2 separate regions of the Homo sapiens genome follow, and region 2 is linked to region 1. Evidence: fine-mapped expression QTL. A gene starts in region 1. The other region holds a variant in brackets. All regions are shown on one strand. Distances are between the middles of the regions.

Region 1 (8,620 bases):
GGAAAGGTGGTGTTCTGAAAGCCCCTGGCATACTGTGGCTGATATGTGCTTGTTAAAATCTCACTGGCTGTGAATCAGGATGGAATATAGGTGGAAAGGAATTTTCTGGTTGGTGCGCTTGACTGAGGAACAGGGAGGAGTAATTATAAATATTGCAAGGTAGATGGCTATTGCCGGATGCCATGGTTGCATCTGAAAAAGGCAAGGAAGGCTGAGGGTGGTAATCACCAATTTAAAGCAAATTAACAGAGTCAGAGGCCCTTGTTAGCATATGAAGGATCTCATTTCCTACAACCGAAGGGCGGGGAGAGCTGAGGATCATGCCCAGGGCCTGATTATCTGGGCAGCAGAACTCCAGGGAAGGTTGAATTCTCAAGCCTGGCTGGTCTTCTATCCAGGGAAGGAGGAAGGCTCTGACACGTGGGATGGGGATGTCTGGGTAGAGACACGCCAGAGACCTGGAAGGCCCAGGTCCACAGGAACCCTCTGAGCCTACAGAAATGGCCCACTGCTCCCCAACAAGGCTAGCTCTCCTCCTCTGCTTTGCAAGGCAACACGTGCCCTGCCTCAGGACCTTCCCCCCAGTACCCTCCTGGCCACCAGATCAATAAGTAGGGTCACATTACAACTTAGCCTGTGTGGGAAACTGCTACCCTGCTAAGGGAAGAAGGAGAGTGTTCCCAAAGGAGCTGCAGAATCAGCCATCTTGAACCAGCAGGCACGCAGGGTGTATATATGGGACTGAGTCCAGAGGATACAGATTAAGGGAGGGGGAATGTAAATTTTGATTTGGGAGCATTTATTACAACAGGAATATCCCCCAGGACACAGGCTTTAACACTCTGGCCAAGATCCTGGGTGCAAAATAGAGATTCATTGATTGAATAAATAGCACTTTACAAATGAAATATTTGATTATGCCAATTAAAAGTATCAAATATATAAAGAGAAGAAGGCAACTTCTAACTAGGGAAAATGGCGAATTAGGACGCCTGAAAAGAGAATAAAGCTGTTTTAATTTACATTACCACCATATCTCCCTATTAAATATCTAAATTTTAAAGTTATCTAAAGTTAACTTCCATGTCAACTTTCTCCAAAAACCAAAAGCAATTAGAAACTAGTTAAAAAAAAAAGGTAAGGGGAGACAACCAAATGTAATATACAAAATAAACACATGCACTAATATGATAGTGATAGCAACAGGAGACAGACAAATTCCTAGGCAGAGAGGGGCAGGTCCCCAGTGAAATCCAACCTTCAAGCCAAAGACAGCTTAAAGCCTGAAAACTGAGTTGCCAGAGTCCACGACCGGAGTGAGAACTTCCTCAATGCCTTGTAGCCAATCAAATGGTGTTATTTCCAGGCCCACCTGGAAGGACTGGTGCTCTTTCCAGCATGTACTTCCCCATTCTGAGCCCATGAAAACCCCAGACTCAGCCCCATGTTGGGACTATCCATCTTTGAGCCCCCTCTCACACAGAGGGCTACCCACTTTGGATCCCCTCTTGTGTCAAGAGCTGTTCTGTTGCTCAATAAAACCCTTCTCTGCCTTGCTGACTCTCCAGTGTCTGTGTAACCTCATTCTTCTTGGACGCAGGACAAGGACCTGGGACCCACCGAATGATGGGTGCAAAAGGAGCTGTAACACTGTAACCTTCCCACCTTCTGCCAGTGCCAGATGGCCACCCCACATCATGGGAAGTGGTGGTAGGGCTGGGCCAGCCTAGGAGCACCAGTGGGCTGGAGCAGGATGGTGGGACAGAATGAGCTGTAGCACAAATGAGCTGCAACACACCCCTTGCACTGTTTGCCGCAACCAAACAAGCCATAACACACCCCCCTCCCCAACCCCGTTTCACTATGCTGCAGGTGGCAGGAAGGAGACAGAGAGCTGTAACAGTCCTTGGGGGCTCAGACCTTGGGACTCCCCAGGTGAGAGCTGTAACACCCCTTGGGGCTCTGTGGCGGTTGGCATCTCTGAGTTTTCAGGCACCACCATGTTCCCCCTCATCCAGATGCTGGTGCCCAAGGTGGAAGATGGTTGTGGCACACTCAGACCAGCCATGGGCTAAGCACAGAGTGGTGTGTGTGTGCAGAATCTAGGTCGGTAGTGCCAGCCGAGTGCAGCCTGCTGCGTCCAGTGGGGAGAGCAAGCCCAGAGGTGAGCCTAGAGCCAAGTGAGGCCCAAGGACGGGTGCTGCCAGCCGGGAAATGTCCAGCTGGCAAAGTGACATTGAAAGAATCCTGTCTCAATAGGATTATTACTGAAAAATAAATTATTCTCTAGAAAGATTCTAATACATCAGGAAAACTTGGGGGGAATTCTCTTTAGACGTGAACACTTATGAACATATCCCCAACCTCCTTAATTTTCTTATTTTACTAATATGAGTTCTTATATTATGTTTTCTCTGTGACAAGCACCTCACCTCCCAACCCACCCCCTATACTCCCACAAAACACAGAAAACCCCTCCTATCAAGAGATCGATGTAAGAGGTGTGTGATTGGCCTTTGGACTTTGTGTCTTCAGAAGAAAACCATGTTCAGTTATTTTCTTCACTAAAAGATGCAGAATTCAATGCTAGAAAAGCACAGAATTTGTAAAATATATTTCAACGAGGATTCATATGTACAGCAAATAAAATTTTAAGTGCATTAAAGAGACTTAGCAGATGATCAAAAGAATCCTGTAGAGAAAAGAATGCAGCTAATAGTCACCAACATGCCCCCACCAACACGCCAAAACCCTAGCCTAAATCTGCATTTACAGTCATTGAGTTTCTTTCTTTTTTTTTTTCTTTTCTTTTTTTTTTTTGAGACAGGGTCTCGCTCTGCTGCCCAGGTTGGGGTGCAGTGGCCCAATTACAGCTCACTGCAGCCTTGACTTCCCAGGCTCAAATGATCCTCCTCTTTCAGCCTCCCAAGTAGCTGGTACTACAGGCTGGTGAGTGCCACCACGCCTGTTTTTTTTTTTTTTTTTTAAATAGAGATGAGGTCTTGCTATGTTGCCCAGGCTGGTCTCAAACTCCTGAGCTCAAGTGATCCTTCTGCCTTGGCCCCCAAAAGTGCTGGGATTACAGGCATGAGCTACCATGCCTGGCCAAGTTTTTAAAAAAATACGAGTCTATTGAATCAGGAAAACATGACCATGCTTTAGATAATATCACAACTAATTCTTCTGTCAATAATCAACACTTTTTTTCCTTTTTTTTTTTTTTTTTCTCGAGACAGAGTCTCACTCTTTCATCCAAGCTGATCTTGAACTCCTGGACTCACATGGTCCTGCCACCTTAGCCTCCCAGGAGCTGGAATTACAGATGCCAGCTGCCGTGCCCAGTTTATAATCAGCATTTTTAACCCCTAGCTTTCCTAGGACCATCTTAATACTGATCTCCATATAAGATCTAGGACTTTATGACACTGCTAAGGGCCTTTATTTCCCTATTTTTTTCAAATAAGTAATACAGTCACTGTATAAACATTACCAGCATAAAGACACATGTAATGAAAAGTTTCCCTATTTTTCATGAACTAAAGCCATTACAATGCCCAGTCCACGTTTAGGGTGGTGTAACCAGCTAGGAGGCTACTCCTTCTTTAAAAAATAAAATAAATCTTCTTAAACCTAATCCCCAGAGCTAGCACCTCCTTCAAGACGCAGTGATTTGATGTACTGCTTCCGCTGATTCAAAGTGAAAGACGTTTCCCCCCATCTTTGTTCCCACTTCTAGCACATGGGGCTCACTTCACCTACCCTTGAGATAATTGCATTGGCTGCTTTGTAACTGATGAATTTTCCAAGCAGAGTCACAGCTGAATGAGGCAGGGGTCTGTGCCGAATGAACTGAGAGATGTAAAATTTTTTTTAGCTAGCAGGCTTTATGGTGGCTGGGTTCCAAGCAGATACCTGGTTGTGCTGGGTTGCGGGGCCACACAGTAGTACTCAAAGGGCAGTACAGTCCCCCTCACAAAGCCTGATGACATCACACAGGGCGTCACAGCCCCACAGGGGCCCCTGCCTGTAAGCTCCAACCAGCAGGTGGAATCCAGGAGTTCCAAGGTCCTAAGGGTCCTTACCCCTCAGCTGAGAAAATAGGGAAAGCCTCATATTAGGTGAGGCTAGAATCCAGGGTGACTCTCTTCTCTAGGCAAGGCCTAATTTTTAGCTTTTTATATTTATTTATTTATTTATTTATTTATTTATTTATTTATTTATTTATTTATTTTTGAGATGGAGTCTCGCTCTGTCCCCCAGGATGGAGTGCAGTGGTGCAATCTCTGCAATCTCTGCGATCTCCGCTCACTGCAAGCTCCGCCTCCCGGGTTCACGCCATTCTCCTGTCTCAGCCTCCGGAGTAGCTGGGACTACAGGCGCCCACCACCACGCCCGGCTAATTTTTTGTATTTTTAATAGAGATGGGGTTTCACCGTGTTAGCCAGGATGGTCTCCATCTCCGGACCTCGTGATCGGCCCGACTCGGCCTCCCAAAGTGCTGGGATTACAGGCGTGAGCCACCGCGCCCGGCTAATTTTTAGCATTTTTGAAATAAACTTAAGAAAAAGAACAAGCTTTCAGAAAACATGAAGAAACTTAAAGATGAGCCAAAGGGTTATTTGATTGCCTTTTAATTCTTTACTCTACGTTACTCAACATTTAGATGTCAGTACACAAGTTCAGCCAAATGCTTGTGAAATTTCTTCTGAACGCATCCCAGGAGACTTGACCCTCCCCGCTTCAGGATGCTGACTCTGTTTTGCCTGAAACCAGACAAGCTCTGCTTCAGGGTCTGTGAGTGGAAGGGGGTGGGTGGGAACCTCTCGCAACCTCTCCTGGGACAGACACAATGGGCAATCGTGACCTCCTGGGGTAGATACTGAAACTGTGACAAGTGATAACAAAACTGGCAGAAATCAGTTGGACCCAATATGGCCAACTGGAGTTTCTGCAGAAAGAGCTTGCTGATATCACAGCCTGAATTTCCACGCATGTTTCGTATTAACTGCCCCGGAATTTGATTTGCACACAGCACCCATGAGGAAGCATGAAGAGATAACTGCGCATGTCTGAGGACTTGCCAGACCTCCTCTTTCCTTCCACCGATCTCCTGCTAATCCCGGAACCCACCCTCTAACCCTTTTCTAATAAAATTATTTCCTTAAAGGCAGCACAGCGAGACAGATTTGAGCTGGACTCCTGTCTCCGTGTTGGTCAATTTGCAATGAAAAGCTTTTCTTTTCTCTGAAACCCAGTGTCTTAGTATTTATTGGCTTCTAGCGCACGGGTCAGTGACCTCTTTTGCTCGGTAACAACATAATGGGCTATAATGACCTCCTGGGGCAGACGGACGGGCATTAATGACGTCCAAGCCAAACTCATGAGTCTCCTTTCTGCAGGCTCGATGGGAAGGTCCTTCTTGCCCATTAATAATATAAAAGTAAGCTTTTATTCATATTAGCCTCAAACTGGAAAAAACCCAAATGTCCATCTGTAGTAGAATGGACCCACTGTGGCATATTCATATAATGCAATGCAAACCAGCAGTGAAAAAGACCAGACTGCAGCTGCATACAACATGGATGCATCTCGCAGACATGGCGTGAGACCGAAGCAGCTCATGGGAGAGCGCGATTCTATTTCTGTGAAGTTTCTGCAGAACGAGGGCTTGCTGAGGTCACAACCCAAATTCCTACAGCATGTGGAAGGGAGCAAGAAAAGGCAAAGCTACTCTAAAGTGATAGAACAGTTTATCTATCTATCAGTAACAAGTAGCTGTGTTTGGGAGCCAGAACAGGATTGCTGGTTACTGAGAGGGAGCAAGAGAGAGCCTTTTGGAGTGCTGGAATGTTCTGGGTCTTCTTGATCTGGGGGAGTGAAGGCTTCACGGAGCCTACTTGTACAAACGTGCATTGGGCTGGTCACTGAAAGTGTATATACTTCACTGTATGTATGTCGTATCCTCAAAACACGAGGGAAAAAAAGTGAGTCAACACAACTTTTGGACAAAGATTTTATTGTGGGAGTTTTGCAACCATTACACAGTTTGCTTGGTGTAATAAAGTAAAATCTTTCTTTCTGAGAAAGGTGCACATATACCGTATTCAAGGACAATAGTTCAAATTGTGTTTATTTATTTATATTTTTATTTATATATTTGAGACAGAGTCTTGCTCTGTTGCCCAGGCTGGATCACACCACTGCTGGTGTGATCATGGCTCACTGCAGCCTTGACCTCTCAGGCTGAAGCAATCTTCCTGCCTCAACCTCTTAAGTGGCTGGGACTGCAGGAATGTGCCACCACACCCAGCTAATTTTTTTATTTTATATTAGTTTTCGTAAAGGCAAGACCTCGCTATGTTGCTCAGGCTGGTCTCGAATTCCTGGGCTCAAGCTATCCTCCCACCTTGGCCTCCCAAAGTGCTGCAATTACAGGCATGATCTACTGTGCCCGAACTTTTTTTGAGACAGAGTCTCACTCTGTCGCCCAGGCTGGAGTGCAGGGGCAAGATCTCAGTTCACTGCAAGCTCCGCCTCCCGGGTTCTTGCCATTCTCCTGCCTCAGCCTCTCAGGTAGCTGGGACTACAGGTGCACGCCACTGCGCTCAGCTAATTTTTGCATATTTAGTAGAGATGGGGTTTCGCCATGTTGGCCAGGCTGGTCTCGAACTCCTGACCTCGTGATCCACTCCCCTCAGCCTCAGTGCTGAGATTACAGGCATGAGCCACCTCACCCGGCCTGGAACTTTATTTTTTAATTGAGATATTACATCTCGTACAATTCACCTTTCATCCATTTTGTGGCATTTGTCAGTATTTCATTCCTTTTTATGCCTGAATAATGAGCTGTTGTTTGAAAATACCCCATTTTATTTATCTATTCATCAACTGGTGAATATTTAGCTGGTTTCCACTTTGGGGGTGTTATAAATAGTACTGCTATGAATATTCCTGTACACATTTCTGTGTGGACATAAGTTTTCAGTTCTCTTGAGTATACACATAGGAGTAGAGTTGCATGTGGTAACTCCAGGTTTAATTTTTTGAGTAATTGCCAGACTGTTTTATAAAGCAGCTACACCATAGAATTTTTATTTCCAAGATTTTTCCCAAGGGAAAGGAAAACGAGTCATGAACAGCCCTTCCTTAGGGCTTGCCCTACCGATTTCAGACTTGCCTTGCCAGCCCCTACCGTTGTGCACCAGCCAACTCCTGGCAATACATTTCTTCATGTGTTTCTCTTACTGGTTCTGTTTCTCAGGCTAACAAGCCCATACTCCTGTGTAACTGAACCCTTTTAAAAATTACAGAACCTAGAAAGTTCCTACACGGTCCTTCTCTGCTGTCAGTGCCCATTACCATCTGGCCCCAGAAGCAAGCACTATTCTGATTTTATTTACCATATATTAGTTTTGCCTGCTATAGAATTTCATGTAACTGAAAGGATATGATAAGTGGTAGGAAACCTTGTGTAAGGTTTCTTTCATTCAGCATAATATTTTTGAGACTTATTGTTTCATGTATCAGTAGTTTACTTTTTATTGGTGAGTAGATTTTTATCATTAAAATCATACCATACCATTTGTTTTTTCATTATTTTGGTCATGAATACCTGGGTAGTTTAGTTTGCTCAGGCTGCCATAACAAAGTACTAAAGGCTTGGTGGTTTAACAACCAAAATTAATTTTTTTTTTTTTTTTTTTTTTTTGTAGACAGAGTCTCTCGTTCTGTCACCCAGACTGGAGTGCAGAGGCGCGATCTCAGCTCACTGCAACCTCTGCCTTCTGGGTTCAAGCAATTCTTCTCCTTCAGCCTCCCGAGTAGCTGGGATTATAGACATGGGCAATCTTTGTATTTTTAGTAGAGATGGGGTTTCACCATGTTGGCCACCATGCCAGGCTGGTCTTGAACTCCTGACCTTATAATCTGCCCACCTTGGCCTCCTAAAGTGCTGGGATTACAGGCGTGAGTCATTGAACCTGGCCTGAAATTAATTTCTCATAGCTCTGGAGGCTACAAGTCCAAGATTAAGCTGCCAGTGGGGTTGGATTCCTCTGAGGACTCTCTCCTTGGCTTGCAGTTGGCCACCTTCTTGCTTTGTCCTCACATGCTCTTTCTTAGGTGTGCACACACCCGTGGGGTTCTCTCTCTGGGTGTTGTAATGTCCTCTTCTTAAAAGGGCACCAATCCGATTGTATTAAGGCTCACTCTAACAACCTCATTTTAACTTAACTGCCTCTTTAAAGGCCTTATCTTTAAACACAGTCAGTACCATTCTAAGGTACTAGGGGTCAGGATTTCAACATATGAATTTGAGGGGGATGCAATTCAGTTGATAGCACCACACTGTTTCCAGTTTGGAGCCTTTACGAATAAAGCTATTCTGAAATTCTCGTTCATGTTTTTATGGACTGACGCTTTCGGTTCTCTTGAGTAAACACCCAGGAGTGTTTAGTCTTTTAAGAAGTGGTCAGACCTTCTACTAAAGTGCTAGTGCCACGTGTGCTCCCATTTGGCGTTGTCACTCTTTTTAATTTTAGCTATAGACAGGCTGGCTATCCAGCAGCAATAGTGACTGAATCGGCCTTGGTGAGAGGGAGACCACGTTGTCGGGTTCATG
Region 2 (8,620 bases), 50 kb before region 1:
AATCCCCCAAGAGAAGGCTAGGTTCTCCTTTTAGAGGGTCCCATAATACTCTGTATTTTTCTATTGCATTTATCAAAAATAATTTTTTTTTTTTTTGAGACAGAGTCTCGCTCTGTCCGCCCAGGCTGGAATGCAGTGGCACGATCTCGGCTCACTGTAACCTCCACCTCCCAGGTTCAAGCAATTCTCGTGCCTCAGCTTCCTGAGTAGCTGGGATTACAGACGTGTACCACCATGCCCAGCTAATTTTTGTATTATTAGAAGAGACGGGGTTTCACCATGTTAGCCAGGCTGGTCTCAAACTCCTGACCTCAGGTGATCCACCTACTTTGGCCTCCCCAAGTGCTGGGATTATAGGTGTGAGCTGCCGCACCTGGGCCAAAAATAAAATTAAATATCTGATAATCTCACCCTACTCAATAGATAGAAGATTCATGACATTAGAAGCACTTTTGGCTGGACGCGGTGGCTTGTGCCTGTAATCCCAGCACTTTGGGAGGCCGAGGCAGGCGGATCACAAGGTCAGAAGATCAAGACCATCCTGGCCAACATGGTGAAACCCCATCTCTACTAAAATACAAACAATTAGCCAGGTGTTGTGGTGCATGTCTGTAGTCCCAACTACTCGGGAGGCTGAGGCAGGGGAATCGCTTGAACCTGGGAGGCGGAGATTGCAGTGAGCCAAGATCGTGCCACTGCACTCCAGCCTGGCGACAGAGCAAGACTCCGTCTCAAAAAAAAAAAAGAAGCCACTTTCGTATTGTGTGCCACTGTATTTTAGCACCCAGCACAGTGCTTCATACATAACAGTACTCAATACATATTGTTGCATGGATGAATTAATGAAGACTGTGTCTTCTTCTCAATGCTCAGCATACAGCACAGTTTGACTTAAAGGAAGTGCTCCTTAAATGATGGCTAGATTGAGCTTAAATATTACTCTCAAGAGATAGTCCTAAACTGAAACTATAGAGTTGGATATTATCGTGATACAGGTATTAGTTACAGCCATGGGGACTGATGCAAGTATCCTACTAAAAATATCAACAAGGGTGTGGCACAGACCCTCGGCGATCAGAGTAGACTTGCCCTGCCAAGTGCTATTCCCTTAGTTACTGGAACATGGGAAGGTCCAGGGAGCGTAGACCTATGGTTGGGCTGCAGGTGGAAGGTATTTGGTTGGCTCAGAGTAGAGGTTTTTTCACACCAGATGCAGAAAGACTGCATTATGTTAACAACCAGTGTGGCTTCACAGGAGCAGAGGACCTGGATGCTAGCCCTGAGCCCTGAAGAGCACATGGGGTAAGAAGCAAAGTCTGACAAGGATGGAAACCTTGGGGACACCTGTGTCTAAGAGATGAGCCACAGCAGAAATTCCTACAAAGGAAACTGAGAACAACTGAGCAATGGAAGGCAAACCAGGAATATTGTCCTAACGTCCAAGAAAACTTCCAGAAAAGACAGTTTAGTGTCAGATGCTGCAATGACCTCAGATAGATGGAAGATCAAAAGCCATCCATTAAGGACATCACTACAAAACTGGTGGCAGTTCCTGGAACGATGTCACGGAAAGCTGAGGGCCTTCCAGGATATCGATTTACTGGAATGAGGAGTAAACGAGAAATGAAGAGGTGTATGCAGGTGCAGAGATCATTCTTTTCTCAGGAAAGACAAGGTTACTTGTCGTGGTTAGAGACAGCTGCCAGTGTCAAGAGAATATTTCAGCTACTTATTAATTTACATACTTCTTTATAAAAAGACACCCAAGTATATTTAAAAGATATGACAGGCCATCAGGAAAGGCGCCATTGAAATATTGGAGTAGGAATAATTAATGTTTGAATAATAAATTAGTTGTCATTTGCTATCTATAGGGAATGTAGGGCCAGAAAAAGGAATATACTGACTCTCCAACTCTGCCTGTATAATACACAAAACTGATCACAGTTATTAGATCCTGAAAGGAGGTGAACTCCTTGAGCCATTTTCTTAGAGTGCAATATAATAAAACAAGGAATAATCAACTAAACAGAATAAAATGCGCCAAAGGCATGAGCGTTATAAAATAATGCCTACGTCCAAAGGGAACATGAGAATGAAAAAAACAAAGCAAGCAAACAAACAAACAAACAAACAACAAAAACAACAAGCTTAAGAGGGACCATCAGATAGAGGCTTGGAGGAAACTATATTGTTCTAGATATTTTTATATGCATAATCAAGTATCTGAAGCATTATGAAAGAAGTCTGCTTGGGAACTTTAAAAGTGAACAAATAACTGGCCAAAAGAAGGAAGGAAAAGAGAGAGAAAATAAAATCCAAAACAGAAAAAATTGGAAAAAACACAACTACTGAGACAATAAAGACAATAGATTTAAAATATTATATTAATTTGATATACCATACATCAGAAATAACAAAACATATGGTATAAGAACCAAATATTTTTAAATTAAATTAAATATATTTATTTTAAGAAGTAGAGTCTAGGCACAGTAGCTCACACCTGTAATCTCAGTGCTTTGGGAGGCCGAGATGGGAGGATTACTTGAGCTCAGGAGTTCAAGACCACCCTGGGCAACATAGCGAGACCACATCTCATAAAAAAAAAAAGTAGAGATGGGGGTCTTGCTATGTTGCTGAGGCTGGTCTTGAACTCCTGGCTTCAAACAATCCACTTGCCTCAGCCTCCCAAAGTGCTGAGATTACAGGCATGAGCCACCACACCAGGCCAAGAATCTAATATTTTATTAAATGTTTTCCATTTTTACAAGGAGCCCCATAAATTGTTTATTGCATGTGCTGCTGGAATGGTACTGGATGTTCATGTAGGAAAATTGAGCATAATTACCACAGCATTGTATGTGACAAAGTTAGGTTTCACTCTCTATAGCTATTTTAAAAATGAAATCTGAATTACCCTTAGTGAAAGTTCCAAATTTTCTCTTCCCCAAAAATCCATATCCTTGTCATACTGTCCAATTTCATTAAAATAATGCCGACGTATAGCAAAAATTCCTCCAGACATTGCAGGTGACCTAGAAAGGGGACATAAATATGAAATTAATTTCACAGAGAAAGTCATTCTGTAGTTTCCTCAAAATTATATTAAATTAGTAATAACTTATAGTTTAAAATGAGAAAACAGGCCGGGTGTGGAGGCTCATGCCTGTAATCCCAGCACTTTGGGAGGCCGAGGCGGGTGCATTACGAGTTCAGGAGATCGAGACCATCCTGGCTAACACAGTGAAACCCCGTCTCTACTAAAAATACAAAAAATTAGCCAGGCAAGGTGGCATGCGCCTGTAGTCCCAGCTACTCGGGAGGCTGAGGCAGGAGAATCGCTTGTACCTGGGAGGCAGAGGTTGCAGTGAGCTGAGATCGTGCCACAGCACTCCAGCCTGGGACGACAGAGCCAGACTCTGTCTCAAAAAAAAAAAAAAAAAAAAAAGAGAAAACATTAATACTAAAATTATCCTATTATACATTTAAGTATATAAAATTACTAAAAACCACAACAAAAGTAGGCAATAACTTTTACTTAGTTCTCACCAAAATGTGTATGCGATATATTCTAAATGTTTTCCTAATGAGAAGGAAAATGATATTTGGAATGTAAGTTTCCCATGAGGATGACAATTGAACTGGGTAGCAGGGCTCAGAGCTCTCCCTTTCTAAAGACATTAGGTGAATTGTAATATTTACTTCTGGACAAACCATAATATTAAGAAGCATCTTGTTTTGTCCACCAATAGTAGGGCCAAATAATACCAAACTAAGTAGTTTGAAAATAGTCACAGCTGGGTGTGGTGGCTCACACCTGTAATCCCAACACTTGGGAGGCTGAGGCTGGTGGATCATTTGAGGTCAGGAGTTCAAGACCAGCCTGGCCAACATGGTGAAACCCCATCTCTACGAAAAATACAAAAATTAGCCAGATG[C/T]AGTTGCCCGCGCCTGTAATCCCAGCTACCCAGGACACTGTGGCATGAGAATCGCTTGAACCTGGGAGGCTGCAGTGAGCTGAGATCGCACCACTGCACTCCAGCCTGGGCAACAGAGTGAGAATCTGTCCCGCCCCCCCCAAAAAAAAGAAAAAGAAAAATAATCACAAGTTTACATTCATTTGTTCAAATAAGTATTTATTGAGCACCTATGTTTTAGGGATATGAGTCACTCAACACACAAACCAAGACCCATGTGTAGGGGAAAGGGTAGGGAAGCCAATTAGAGGGGCTGCAGAGAAAAATAATGGGATCCGGGATAAGAATGCAGCAATGTAGGTAGTAAGATGCGGTTGAATTCCTGGCATATTTTGGAGATGGAGCTAACAGATTTGCTTATGGGTCGGGTGTGGGGTGCCTACTGCACCAGATGTGACACACATTGCCGAGTGCACCAGATAGGAACATTCCTATCAGAATCCAGTCATGCTGTTATCTCTGCCAATTACAAAATTAAAACCGCCTTATTTTGACCCCACTTCCTGTCAGTTATGTCCCCTTTTCTCTCTTTCGTATTAAAGCCTTAGAAAGATTTGTCCATCACTATCTCTAATTCCCTTAAACTCCCTTCCATCAGGCTTCGCCTCCCGCCATTCACAATTAAGACTTGTTCATGACCTTCTCATGGTTTAGTCCAATGCTCATTTCCAGTCCTTCTCTCGCTGATCCAGCCACTGTGTTGGATGCTGCTGGCCACACCCTTCTCTTGGACACACATGCCTCCCTGGGCCTCCAGGGAACCAGATTTCCTGGTCCTTCTCCTCCCTCCCTGGTTGCTCCTTCCCATCTCCTTTGCCAGTTCCTCTCCTCCTCTCAACTGTCAATGTTGAAGCACCCAGGGCTCAGGGCTGGTCCTCTACACTTCTCCACTCACCCACATAGTGATTCTCATCCATCCTATCCATGACTCCCAAAGGATGCCTCCAGCCCTGACCTCTCTCAAAACTCCAGACTCATGATTGAATCCATATAGGATTGTGTTCAGTACCAGAGAATCAAAGAGTTATAGATGATATGAAGATAAATGTCATATCATGTTATAGATTGAGTCCTAAGTAATTCTATTGACAATAATTCTATTACTGTATTAAAGACTTCTAGAAGCAAGTAACAGAACAATTTGATTAAGCCTAAGAACTTGAAAGAATAATCTCTGGAGGCTTTTTCCCCCTGGGTCTCAATATACATATTCTATATTTTTCCAAAACCAGAAGAAATCTCACCAGATTGGTTTAGTAGGTCCTTCTGGCCCATCCATCTCATAAGGGACTCATGTATCCAACTGCATCCAACTACCTACTTCACATCCCCACTTGAATGCCAAATAGACATCTCAAATATGCCCCAAAGAGAATCTTCCTGCCAAAAACCTGCTCCACTCATGGTATTTCTCATCTCAGGGCACTGCAGTTCCGTCCATTTGGTGTGCAGGCCGAAAACGTTGGAGTCAGCTGTGGTCTGAGACAGCAGGGAGAAAGTGAAAGGGCCTTGCTCTGCCCTTAGAAAAGGGCAGGTGGCTGGGGGAAAAGGGCATGATCCTTGGTCATGGTGATGCCTGCATGTCAGGGAGCTGGGGAGGTCTTGAGTTATCATTGGCTTAAGCCCTAGGCATGATTTTGCTTTTTGTGTGTGTGTGTGTTAAGTTTTCCAAAACTCATTGCACCTAGCTTTTTTGGTCGTCATTAGAACTAAGGGAAAAATGTATCTTCAGATATGAATGCTAATTAATACCATGACTAATATGTAACAGATGCTGGCGAGGATGAGGAGAAAAGGGAACGCTTGCACAGTGTTGGTAGGAATGTAAATTAGTACAACCGCTGTGGAAAACAATACAGAGATTTCTCAACGAACTAAAAGTAGAACTACCATTGAATCCAGCATTCTCACTATTGGGTATCTTCCTAAAGGGAAAGAAATCATCTGTGTCAAAAAGATACCTGCCATTGTATGTTTATCACAGCACTATTCACAACTGTAAAGTCATGGGATCAACTAAAGTGTCCCTCAGTGGAAGACTGGATAAAGAAAATGTGGTATATATACACAATGGAATACTATTCAGCCATAAAAAAGAATAAAATGATGTCTTTGGCTGCAACATGGATGGAACTGGAGGCCATTATCTTAAGTGAAACAATCCAGAAGCAGAAAGAGAAATACACATGTTCTCATTTATAAGTGGGAACTAAATAATGTATACACATGGACATAGAGTGTGGACTGACAGGCATTGGAGACAGAAGGGTGGTGACAGGAGGGCAATGGATGATGAGAAGTGACTTAATGGGTCCGGTGTACATTGTTTGAGTGGTGGATACTTGGAAAGTCCAGACTTTACCACTAGGCAATATAGCCATATAACAAAATTGCACTTGTACCCCTTATATTTATACAAATAATAATAAATCAATAAAATAACAAAATAAAATTTATTTTTTCTTTTAACCTTTAAAAAATAACTTATGTTTTCTTATACATATTATATATTTTAATGTAACATACAATTATAATATATGTAATATGTATAATATATATTACATATAATAGGTACATATTTAATCACACAAAGGTATACTGACAGAACATTTTTTATGGTTTGATTTTTTAATTTAACACATGAGAAGTTTTCTTTCTAGTTAATTAGCCCTTGAAAACTTAACTTTAATGATTATGTGATAGTCCATAAAAATGAATATACTTTATTTTTTACCCATTTCAATAGTATTGAATATGTTGTTTTCAGTTTTTTATGAATATAAATATTGACACACTATATATATCTCCGTGCTTATTTCTGACTCTCTTCAAATAAATTCAAGTAAGTGGATTACTGCATCAAAGAATAAGGATATTTATAAGATTCTTAATTTGCATTGCCAAATTGTTTTCAAAAAGAATGATCCAATGTATATACACACGAGCAGTGTATTAGAATTCTAAACATTTTACCATTTAGCAAATAAATATTAGGAATACAGTTTCCCTGTTGAATATCAGTTATTTTTACATTAGAGCCTAAAAATGTTTTATATGTGAGATATGGAAATATTACAAAAATTATAAACCAAGTTTGTGTAATTGGAACACCATAGCTATTTCTTACTAAAAGTAACTATTTAAAATAGTTTTGAGATAACTCAAAAGATTAATGCTGTTTATTTTTATTAAGTTGAGATTTCTACATATTACATTTTATTACAATAAAGTACACTTTTGTTCCTCTTTGTTCCAAAGTCTGTGACATTACTGTAGCTAATGTTGATATTGATCAGATCACTTCCTCTGTGTCAAGCCTTATGCTATGTGTTTTACATGTATTGGCTCATTTAATCCCCTCAACGATCCTAAGAAATGTGTTAATTATTACTATCACTGTTTAACAGATGAGGACGACATTGAAGTTGAGAGAGGTAATTGTGCCAACTGAGGGCCATCTTAATGTACAATTCCAGACATGCCATTGACCTTGTGGTCTTTGTGTGAACAGTATCTCCTGGAGATGTGCAGTGCACAGCTGGTGCAACTGTACATGGCAGCCCTAAACTGCTAACAAATGATGGAGTCTCTCCTTCAAACCAGATCTGTTTGACTTGAGCTTTTAGTCAAATGAAATATTGCTCCTGAAAGTCATGATTGAATCCATATAGGATTGTGTTCAGTACCAGAGAATCAAAGAGTTATAGATGATATGAAGATAAATATCATATCACGTTATATATTGAGTCCTAAGTGATTCTATTAACAATAATTCTATTACTGTATTAAAGACTTCTAGAAACAAGTAACATAACATTTTGATTAAGCCCAAGAACTTGAAAGAATAATCTCTGGAGGCTTTTTCCCCCTGGGTCTCAATACACGTATGCTATATTTTTCCAAAACCAGAAGAAATCTCACCGGATTGGTTTAGTAGATCCTTCTGGTCCATCCATCTCATAAGAGAAAACATTATCCCATTTAAATTGTAGGTTCCAATCAAAAGTTCCCCTTACAAGAGGAGAGGGCTTATACTCCAGAGTTCTATCATCAATGACATCTATCAGGGGGCACACCACCATTTTGGGGTCCTTGGCAATGGCATGCAGCAGGGGCTCCAGCCATACTCTGTTCACCTCACAGTGGCTGTCCAGGAACACCAGAACATCCCCTGGGGAGGCAAGAACAGGGCAATGTTAGTCCACATAGCTGAAAAAATACGGCAATCCAAATCAAAGTTCAATGTGATGAATATTTCTTGAGCATTTACTATGTGTTTGGCTCTTACAGTGCTTTCATTTTCATTGGAAGGAAACAAGAAATACATTATTATGTACAAAAATATGCAACATCATGTGCCATAGATGTTGAGGGGAAGCCAGTAATTGTGGGTTAGAGAGTGGTTTTGGGGAGAATTCTAAAGGAGCAGGTGGAACTGAACTGGATTTCCATTTTAAAAAATGATTTTAGCTTGGTCTTGACTGATCAGCTTAAATTTAGCAAATTTTTACTGAAAGGACACCTTCTTAGGCATTGAGTTTGGTGCATGGGATGCAGACATGCATCACGACTTTTGCTCTTGAGTTCAAGTTTTTTTTTTTTTCTGAGATGGAGTCTTGTTCTATCACCCAGGCTGGAGT

Evidence for each region.
Region 2: its variant is fine-mapped to the expression of GALNTL5 in prefrontal cortex (BrainSeq, PIP 0.95).

Annotation. Positions count from the first base shown.
Region 1 is chr7:151,951,749-151,960,368 of GRCh38, reverse strand. GALNTL5 (polypeptide N-acetylgalactosaminyltransferase like 5) reads right to left here and starts at 3,923. Exons shown (of 9, transcript NM_145292.4): 1 at 3,760-3,923. It overlaps LOC105375570 (a long non-coding RNA gene), which reads left to right and starts at 5,447. Exons shown (of 3, transcript XR_007060597.1): 1 at 5,447-5,984. LOC105375571 (a long non-coding RNA gene) reads left to right here and starts at 4,024. Exons shown (of 2, transcript XR_928179.2): 1 at 4,024-4,118; 2 at 4,664-5,170. RefSeq lists a silencer at 8,439-8,620.
Region 2 is chr7:152,002,245-152,010,864 of GRCh38, reverse strand. It overlaps GALNTL5 (polypeptide N-acetylgalactosaminyltransferase like 5), which reads right to left. Exons shown (of 9, transcript NM_145292.4): 6 at 7,902-8,151; 7 at 2,921-3,038. Among named protein-coding and RNA genes, the nearest start is that of GALNT11, 19 kb to the left of the region's middle. The variant C/T (reference allele first, on the strand shown) is at 3,942.